2 separate regions of the Homo sapiens genome follow, and region 1 is linked to region 2. A link means that fine-mapping ties the variant in region 2 to the expression of a gene that starts in the linked region. Tissue or cell type: hypothalamus. Region 2 holds a variant in brackets; the other region holds the start of a gene. All regions are shown on one strand. Distances are between the middles of the regions.

What was found. PIP is the estimated chance that this variant, and not a neighbour inherited with it, causes the effect.
Region 1: it holds the start of LTC4S, and the variant in region 2 is fine-mapped to the expression of LTC4S in hypothalamus (GTEx, PIP 0.96).

Annotation. Positions count from the first base shown.
Region 1 is chr5:179,791,647-179,796,790 of GRCh38, reverse strand. LTC4S (leukotriene C4 synthase) reads right to left here and starts at 2,805. Exons shown (of 5, transcript NM_145867.2): 1 at 2,653-2,805; 2 at 1,108-1,207; 3 at 935-1,005; 4 at 769-850; 5 at 144-538. The coding sequence starts at 2,710. The coding sequence ends at 397. RefSeq lists silencers at 165-376, 221-380, 401-450, 491-1,200, 2,746-2,815 and enhancers at 1,010-1,682, 3,166-3,315, 3,336-3,415, 2,990-3,617.
Region 2 is chr5:180,101,308-180,106,451 of GRCh38, reverse strand. It overlaps RASGEF1C (RasGEF domain family member 1C), which reads left to right. Exons shown (of 14, transcript NM_175062.4): 13 at 4,309-4,381; 14 at 4,927-5,144. The coding sequence ends at 4,951. Among named protein-coding and RNA genes, the nearest start is that of RNF130, 32 kb to the right of the region's middle. The variant G/A (reference allele first, on the strand shown) is at 3,174.

The DNA.
Region 1 (5,144 bases), 310 kb after region 2:
CCCCTGAGGAGGGGGACCGGTGAGGAGACCGCTGAGCGCTAGGAGGGTGAACCCCGGCAGGACTGGGCGGCCTTGTGACCCCGAGGCTGAGTAGGGAGTGGGGTAGGAGGTGAAGACCGGATCCAGTCCCGCCCCAGGGGGAGGGCTCGTTCCTTCGCAGCCACTCTCACGCCGCCACTAGGAAGCCCGCCCCGGGCTGCCCGGACTCGGGCTGGGCCCCTCCAGGCTCCGTAGCCCGCGGTGCGCCACCCCCGCGGACCCAGAGAACGCAGCCCGGGTCTCGGTCACTAGAACTTTAATGATAGAGACTAGGATGCGGAAGCGAGCGCCCCTCCCCGGGGCAGCTGGAGGCTCCGGCTCTTCTTTCCCGGCTCCGTCGGCCCGGGGGCCTTGGTCTCAGGCCCACGGCAGCAGCGTCCGGAGCCGTCCGAGGAGCGCGGCGCGCAGCGCGGCCGGGAGGAAGTGGGCGAGCAGGCCGAGCGCAGCCAGCGCCACCAGCAGCCAGAGGGCGCGCGCGCTCGCGTACAGCGGTGCCAGCCTGCGGGCGGCGGTCAGCGGGGAGGTGGCGCGAGGAGGCCCGCTTCTTCCCCGCCGCAACCCTGGCCCCACGGGGACTTCCTCTGGCCGCCGCCAGGGCTCGCCCACCGAATCCCCAAAGGCGCTGGGCTCCGGCCCGTCGCCCGCCCCCAGCTTCGGTCCCGCTCCCCAGGAGCCCCGCCCGCCCGCGATCTTTCCCCGGCCCCGCCCCGCTCCCCGCCCGGCCCTCACCTGAGCTGCGCGGAGCGCGCGTAGCCCTGGAAGTAGCGGAGGCGCGCGAACAGGTAGACCAGGCCGCACAGGGCCGCCGCCCCTGCGAGAGGTACGCACGGGCCTGGTGAGCGCCCTGCGCGGGTCCCGGGGGTCCAGCGCGTGCGCCCCTGCCCCACACCCCGACCTTCATGAAAGAAGATGCCGGCGACCCAGAGCGTGGCGAGGAACAGCGGGAAGTACTCGCTGCAGTTCACCCTGCGGTGGGCGGGTGGGATGAGCGCGCCGGCCGGGATGGTCCTGCGACCCGGACCCGCCTGGGGCTCGCTCCCCGCCCCGCGCCCTCCCGCCGCGCCTCACTGGGCTCGGTAGACGCGCTCGAACTCGGGTGGGCCGGTGGTGAGCGGCGGCGACACGCGGAAGGCCCTGCGCGCCGAGATCACCTGCAGGGAGAAGTAGGCTGGGGGAGGAGGGGGAGCGGGAGTCAGGTCTGGACACCCGAAGCCCCAGAGATGGGAGTGGGAGGGATCCTGCAATCTGGCCCTTCACTTGGCCGTGTCCTCTCCTCCCTAAGGCGGAACCCCGCCCCCTCCCCGCCCGAGGAGACCTCTCGTCTCACCCATCCCTGGCCTGCCCTGTGTCCCTGACATTCAGCGAGGAGGGCAGGGCTGAAGCCTGGGGCGCAGAGAGGCCCTGTCCCAACCTGTGAGTGTATGGGGGAGGGTGAGTGATTCAGGCACAGGGACACCTGCTCCGCGAGAGAGACCACTTGAGTCCTTGTTTCTGAATCATTTCACTCTCAAAACACAGGCAAATGCAGCTTTCAGGTCCCTGGCCAGGAAGTGCCTCGGGAGTCTGAGGGCAGAGCTGGCTGCATCCTCCCAGGTGCAAGGAAGCACACTCCCTGTAGCTAACAGTCCCTGGTCACCCACCTACCAGCGCCCACCAGCAGGGCCCTCTGACCCTGCCTCAGGCCGGGATCACTAAAGCCTGCGTCCCTGTGCCTCCAAACCTCAGTTTCTCTGTTCCTGCATTCCGGTCCCAGGCCTAAATCTGACAGACACCTTCTCTCCTGCTCCCAGGAGGTTGCAGCTGGGACTCTCCTAGCCTAACCCCAGGACCCCAGGGCTGGGGTAGTTGCAGAGGGTGGGCTGGCCCTAAAGTTTCTCTGTGGGCAGGAGCCCTTCTCTTGGTCAGGTGAGGCCAGGCCAGACCACACACAGACCAGTGCTGGCTGTGCGCTCCCTCCCCAGACCTCCCGTCGGACCATCTCCCCCTGAGTCCTGCAGCCCTGGCACCTTTGGTTCTGGGCCCTCTGCAGATGGGTGTCACAGGGTGGCCATCCAGCTCAGTGCAGGAGCAGCTGGAGGTCAGGCTGGCCTGTCTGTTCAGCCCCTTCAGAGCCCCCTCCCCAGGCTGTGCCTTATCCTAGCCCACACACTGTGGAGTAGTGGTGTCTCTTAGGTGGCAAGGATATCTGGCCAAGGAATGTGTCCTTTAGGGCCAGTCTGAGAAAGGCATTAAGCAGGCTCTTTTTAGGGGGCTGGAGGAAGGAGTCCCACCTCTACCCTGCTCCACGTGGTCCCAGTATGGAGGTGCCTTTGAAGCAGAGCCAGGGAATGGGGGCCGCTTGCTGGGACGCCCAGAGAGGGGACAGCTGGAAAGAGCAGAGATCAGCTTCCCCAAGCCCATGGCTATCCTACCATTTGTCCTGGCACCCTTGCCACCCCCAAGTCCTACAGCTCTCACAGCCAGGTGCCCCCCAGTTCCCTGAAAGTCCCCACCCTCTTCCAGCTTGGGCCTGGGCTGGAGTCCCCACCTCTGCCCTCCACCTGGGCCTAGGGGGCAGAGGGCAAGCTGTAGGGATCTAAGGCCCACCCTCTTCCTAGATAGGAACCAGCCCACCTTGCAGCAGGACTCCCAGGAGGGTGACAGCAGCCAGTAGAGCTACCTCGTCCTTCATGGTACCGTCGGTGTGGTGGCACGGGCTGTGTGTGAAGGCGAGCTGGGGAACGCTTAGCCCCGTCTGCTGCTCAGAGGACGGCCCAGGAGAGGAAGAGCAGCCTCGGTGCTCTCCCCGCCCCATCTCAGTGGAGGGGGTGCACGGGGGTGTGACCATACCACACAGAGCCAGGGAGCCAGGCCAAGCCAGCAGGGAGGAAACCAAAGTCTGGGCAGGGGAGAGCAGCTAGCTGGAGACCGCCTCACCACTTCCTGCTTGTTCGTGCCCCTTCCTTGCCTAGTCCCGCGTGGCAGAGCCCAAGCTGTCCATCTGGGTCAGCTCCAGCTGTGGGTGTGCCCCCTGCTGCACCACCCCACTTTCTCCAGGGCCTTGCAGACCCCCACATCATGCTGGAGCCAGCCCCAGGCTCCCGGCTAACTCCTCCACCCACCTTATCTGTTCCCTGTCCCCATCCAGGCTGTTCCTGGCAACCCCTGCCAAACCCTCCTCTGCGGAAGCCCTTCCCAGTGCCTTTGGCTTCAGAATGGAGTCCCAGCGCCCCCCCAGCCACACTGGGCCCCACAAGCTCTTTCTCCTTCAGGAAACCTCATGCCTGCCAGCCTTAGTCGTTGTAGGGGTTCCATGCACAAGGGCCACCCTGCCAGGAGGAAACCTGTCCAAGGCCCCCTGGGTGGCGGGAGGGTCAGCCCTTGTGGGCCATCCCTCTCCCAGGCCTCTCTTGGGCCTCCCACAACAGTCACCTGCTGTGTCTTTCTGCCCCGCAGCCCTCTTGCCTCAAGGTAACAACCCTCCACCACCTTCCTAGACGGCTGCCCTCCCCACACTCAGGCCCTGTGGTCTGGACAGTGCTGACTCCTGCCCCTTCCAGGCCTGTGAGATGGACACTGAGCCAAGGCTGACTCAAGATGGTGAGATGTAGTTCTGGAAACTTCCTTAGGACTTTGGGACAGGAAACTCAGAGTGGGGAGGGGGACTACGGCGGGCCACCCTGAGGACAGAGCCCACGCAGGGCCAGGTGGAGAGGAAAGGTGGCACCCGAGGACTCCTGCCTGGAGTTCTGGGTGTCTCCCTCGCCCCGCCTGGAGCGCCCCCGGCCGCCCCCCTCGCCCTGCCTGGAGTGCCCCTGGCCGCCAGCCTTCCCAGTTGGGCCTAACGGTCACTTCCTCTTTTGGCTTGAGTGGGTTTGCGGTGGCTTTTGGTCAGAAGTGGCAAAGTCCAGACTGACCCAGAAGCACGGGCAGGAGCTGGGGGAGGCCACAGGCCGTGCTGCAGGGGTCGGGCCGCATGGTTCTGCCCTCGCACCTGGTCCTTCCTTGCTGCCCCAAGCTCAGCTCCAGCCTGAGGCTCGGAGCCTGTTGGGCTCTCTCAGAATCCCTTCTTCCTCCTCTGGGTATCGCCCCTGCCCCCGGAAACCAGATATGCCCCAGCTGGGGGCTCTGTGAGCTCCTCCAGGGCAGGGGCCAGGGCTCAGGCCCGGCCCCTGCTTTAGACCAAGCTGTGACAGTCATCTTGGGGCTCAGTGATGGAGGACTGCCTCCTAGATCCCGGACACAGATGTAGTGCCAGGGAGCGATGGTGGCCGCGTCCTCAGACTCTGCCCACTCAGCCTCCTTCCTCCCTGAAACCTGCCCCACAGGGCCTGCCTGAAGGGTGGGATGCAGCCCACCACGCAGGGGTTGACGCTGGTGCCAGTGGGCTGTGCCCAGGGTGTCTGTGTGCACCACGCATACATACCTGCATGCCCCTTGGTCAGTTGTCACACACCCATGTCTCTGTGCTTGTGGGTGTCCAAGTGTCTTCGTGAGTCCAGGCCCTCCTGTCAGCCAAGCTCTCATTTCCTCCAAGGCCTGAATGTCCTCCCGTCGGAGTTCATCCCCTCAGTCCACAGCAGGAAGCCAAAGCCTAACATCAGCAGCTTCTGAGGAAGTCCCTTGGCAGATGTGCAGGGCAGGGACCTGGGTCTTGGCCCCGGGAGCCCTCCCCGGGTCTCTTGGTTCCCACCTCCCTCCCTCTGAGCCTGCCCAGGCTGTCAGGGCCCTGCCTGGGCTCAAGCCAGCTCAAGCTGACAGGAGGGCCAGCCAAGCCCCCACCCCTGCTCGGGCCACCCAGCTTCCATCTTCCTGTCTAGCTCTGGAGGCACCAGCATCAGGAGGGAAGCGAAAGCTCCTCCCTGAGCCTCCACAGAGCCCTAAGGAGTCTCTGATGCCCACTCACCAGGACCTCTGGGCGGCAGAAAGGCCGGCAGAACCATTGCACAGAGAAGAAATCAGAACTTCTGTGGAGTGGATCATAGGCAGTGCACAACTCAGACCCTGAGCTTGAACAAGAAAGTTTATTTAGAAATTATTTTATATTTGAGACAGGATCGTGCTCTGTTGCCCAGGCTGGAGTGCAGTGGCTCAACATGCCTCACTGCATCCTCAAACTCCCGGGC
Region 2 (5,144 bases):
AAAGCAGGACTCAGAGGAAATCTTATAGCACCAAATGCATACATTAGAAAAAAGGGGAAGTGTCAAATCAATAATCTAAGTTCCTACATCAAGAATCTAGAAAAAGAGGAGCAAAATAAACTCAAAGCCAGCAGCAGGATGGAAATAAGAGCAGAAATCAATGAACCCGTAAGCAGAAAAACAATAAAGTTAATCAAAGGGCTGGTTCTTTGAAAAGAACAATAAAATTGCTGCCATCTAGCAAAGAACCTCTTGACAAAGAAAAGGAAAAGACACAAATTACTGATACAGTAGTCCCCCCTTATCTGTAGTTACCCTCAGTCAACCGTGGTCTGAACATACTAAATGGAAAATTCCAGAAATAATTCATAAGTTTTGAATTGTGCACCATTCTGAGTAGTGTGATGAAATCACACGTCATCCCACTGGGTTCCTCCTGGGACATGATTCATCCCTTTGCCCGGCATTTGTGCTGTGTTTATGCTGCCTATCAGTCACTTAGTGGCCACCTCAGCTATCAGATCAACTGTCAGTGTCACTGTGCTTGTGTCCAGGTAACCCTCATTTTACTTCTTTTTTTTTTTGAGACAGAGTCTCGCTCTGTCACCCAGGCTGGAGTGCAGTGGCACGATCTCGGCTCACTGCAGCCTCTGCCTCCCAGGTTCAAGCGATTCTCCTCCCTCAGCCACCCAAGTCACTGGGATTACAGGCGTGAGCCACCACGCCCAGCTAATTTTTGTATTTTTAGTAGAGACGGGGTTTCACCATGTTGGTCAGGCTGGTCTCGAACTCCTGACCTCAAGTGATCCACCAGCCTCAGCCTCCCAAAGTGCTAGGATTACAGGTGTGAGCCACCGCGCCCAGCCTATTTTACTTCTTTTTTTTTTTTTGAGACAGAGTCTTGCTCTGTCACCCAGGATGGAGTGCAGTGGCGCAGTCGCGGCTCACTGCAACCTCCGCCTCCCGGGTTCACACCATTCTCCTGCCTCAGCCTCCCGAGTAGCTGGGACTACAGGCGCCCGCCACCACACTTGGCTAATTTTTTGTATTTTTAGTAGAGACGGGGTTTCACCGTGTTAGCCAGGATGGTCTCCATCTCCTGACCTCGTGATCTGCCCACCTCCGCCTCCCAAAGTGCTGGGATGACAGGCGTGAGCCACCGCGCCTGGCAAAGTACCTGAGCAGTGATGCAGGCAGTTCAGATATGGCAAAGGGAAGCTGTAAAGTGCTTCCGTTAAATGATGAGGTGAAAGTTCTCAAGGGAAAAAATTGTATGCTGAGATTACTAAGATCTACAGTAAGAACAAACTTATCCATGAAATTCTGAAGAAAGAAAAATAAATTCTTGCTAGTTTTGCTGTTGCATCTCAAACTGCAGAAGTGCCTGATGAGTGCTTAGTTAAGATGGAAAAGGGATCCAAGACAAGTATATACAGGATTCCGTACTATCTGCAGTTTCAGGCAGCCACCAGGGGACTTAGAATGTATCCCCCACAGATAATAGGGGACTACTGTACCAGGAGTAAAACAGGATATCACTAACGACTACAGACATTGAAAAGATAATAAGGGAATACGACAAACAACTCCACACACACGAATTTAACAATTTAAATGAAATGAACTAATTCCTTAAAAAGCACAAATTACCACAACTTGACATAAAATAGATAATTTGAATAGCCCTGTGACTATTAAATAAATTGAATTTATAATTTTAAAACTCCCAAAAATGAAGTCTACAGGCTCAAATGGTTACACTGGAGACTTCTACCAAATGCTTAAAGAATTAACACCAATTCTCCACAATCTCTTCCAGAAAGTGGCAGAGGAGGGAGCCTCCTGATGAAGCCAGTTGTCTTAGTCAGTTTGAGCTGCCGTAACAAAATACCTTAGACTGGGTAATTCATAAACAACAGACATTTTCTTACCACTGAGTTTATATATATATATCTACAGTTTCAGAGGCCAGAAATCCAAGATCAAGGCAGATTCTGTGTCTGGTGAGGGCTGCTCTCTGCTTCTAAGGTGGAGCCTTCTTGCTGTGTCCTCGCATGGCAGAAGGGGCAAATGCTGTGTCCTCATTTGGCAGATGGGCAAAAAGGGGCCAGACTGGCTCCCTCCAGCCCTTTCATAAGGGCACTAATCCCATCCATGAGGGTGGAACCTCATGGCCTAATCGCCTCCTCCAGACCCCACCTGTTAGTTAACACTGTTGCATTCGGGATTATGTTTCAACATGAATTTTTCAGGGCACAAACATTCAAACCCTGGCACCAGTATTACCCTGATACTAAAACCAAAGACAGTACCAAAAAAAGAAAATACAGGCCAATATCCCTCATGAATATAGACACAAGAATCCTTAACAAAATAAGCAAATAGAGTTCAGCAATATGTAAAAATAATTATACGTCATGACTAAGTGGGTTCATTCCAAGGATGCAAAGCTGTTCAATATTTGAAATTCAATCAGTGTGATTCACTATACTAAACAGCTAAAGAAGAAAAGACACATGATTATATTAATCAATGCAGAAAAGGCATTTGACAAATTTCTACACGCATTTATGGTAAAAACTCTCAGAAACTAGTAATAGAAGGGAATTTATCAGCATGACAAGTTGCATCCACAGAAACGCTTCTGCAAACATTATATTTAACAGCAGAAGATTTAATGCTTTCCTCGTAAGACCAATAACAATGAAAGGATGTTCACTCTTCCCCACTCTTAGTCATCATAGTAATGGAAGAACTAGTTAGTGCGATAAGGCAAGAACAGGAAGTAACACACAAATCAGAAAGAAAAATTAACACTGTCCCTATTTGCAGATGATGAGGAAAAAAAATCCCAAAGAATCTACAAAAACCCCTAGAACTAATAAGGGAGTTCAGCAAGGTTGCAGGATACAAGACACACATGCAAAAATCAACCATGTTTCTACGTATGAGCAATAAACATGTGCACGCTGAAACTAAAATGATAATACCATTTACAGTCACTCACATGAAATATGTAGGTGGAAATGGAACAGAACACGCACAGGACGTGTACGCTAAAAGTTAATGCTGATGTGCCGGGTGCGGTGGCTCACGCCTGTAATCTCAGCACTCTGGGAGGCCGAGGCGGGCGGATCACAAGGTCAGGAGATCGAGACCATCCTGGCTAACAC[G/A]GTGAAACCCCATCTCTACTAAAAATACAAAACATTAGCCGGGCGTGGTGGTGGGTACCTGTAGTCCCAGCCACTCGGGAGGGTGAGGCAGGAGAATGGTGTGAACCCGGGAGGCAGAGCTTGCAGTGAGCCGAGATCGCGCCACTGCACTCCAGCCTGGGCGACAGAGCGAGACTTCTGTCTCAAAAAAAAGTTAATGCTGATGAAAGAAATCAAGAAAGATGTAGATAAATGGAGACATAGGATGTTCTCGAACGCAAAGACTGCATAGCAAAGGTATTAATTCTCCTCCCAGAATTTAAGTACAGGTTTAATGCAATTCCTACCCAAATCCCAGCAAGACTCTTTGTAAGATAGAGACGAGATTCTCCTAAAATTTGTATCGGAAGTCAAAGGAACTAGAATTGCTAAAACAATCTTGAAAAGGATTCGTGGGAGGAATGAGTCTGCTTGATGTTAAGGCTGATATGATAGCGCTATGGTCGTTAAGACAGCACAGTATTAGGGGAGGGATGGACGCATGAATCAATGGGACAGAATAGAGAACCCAGAAAGAGACCCACGCAAATATACCAGGTGATTTTTGACAAAAACAAAACAAAACAAAACAAAACCCAATGGAGGAAAGCTAGCCCTCCAACAAACAGTGCCGGAGCATCCGGACATCCACAGACCAAAACATGAACCCCAGCCCAAGCCTCACACCTTATACAAATAATTAGCTCAGCATGGATCACAGACTAAAATGTAAAATGTAAACCTATACAGCTTTTAGCAGGGAAAAGCAAGAGATAACCCTCAGAATATAGGGCTAGATAAAGAGTTTCTTATTCCAAATATGCCACTATGATATGGCCCAGCCATTGCATTCTTGGGCAGTTAGTTATTCCAGAGAAATAAAGACTCATGTATTTATACATCATTTGAAGTGAGTTTCACACAAAAGCAAAAGCCCTCACGCAAATGTTATAGAACTACTGTCGTTAAGACAGCACAGTATTAGGGGAGGGATGGACACATGGATCAATGGGACAGAATAGAGAACCCAGAAAGAGACCCACGCAGATATAGCAGGTGTAGAACAGGTTATTATCATCAACCATAATTGTGAAATTTCACTTCATTTTCTGTCTAGGTCTTTATTTGGCTTCTTACGAAAGTGAGAGCCCAGAGAACCAAACAGAAAAAGAAAGATGGAAAGCTCTAAGGTGAGTCTTCCTGCCAAGGTGGGGCCTGGGGGCTGCTTGGGATGGAAAGCTCTAAGGTGAGTCTTCGCGCCGAGGTGGGACCCGGGGACTGCTTGGGACCAGGACAGGGCCGAGGGGCTTCAGAGATACCCGGCTCACCAGCCTCCTGGGAGCCTCAGCAGCCCACAGTGGGGATCAAGCCACAGTCATAGGGGTGAGGAGAGGAGGCTGAGCCTGTGACTCCCCCACGGCTGGTGGCTGCCTCTGTGTGCAGTCAAGATGCATGTCCCAGGGACAGGGACTCCCAGTCTATATTTGTATGCCAGACAGTGGGACACACACCCCACCTCCTTCTTGCTCGGCGTGTTAACACGTCCAAGTGGCGGTCGGAAATGATCCATAGCAATGGACTTCGAGGGCTGAGCCCCAGGGATTTGCAGAACACCCCTCTGGGGCAGGAGGCTGGCTCTCCTCAGCGCACTGAGAAAGTGGCTGTGCTGGAGAGCAGTCTAACTGGGGTGGGGAGCTCCAGGCTCTCACCGCTCCCGACATGCTTAAATCTGCAGATCTTCTATTTTGGGGAAGACATGAAAGCGCTGAGCTGAGGGACGAGGAAGAGCTGGAGCCCGCAGAAGCCGTCCACAGCCCTGCCTCAGTGGCCCAGTGGGCAGAGGCCAGGGAGTGCCTCACTATTTTGCAAATGCCGACCCTGTGGCCTGCTGCCCGCCCCCCCCCCCCCCACAGTGGCCATACGGGCACAGGAGACCTTTTATGGGACTTTGGC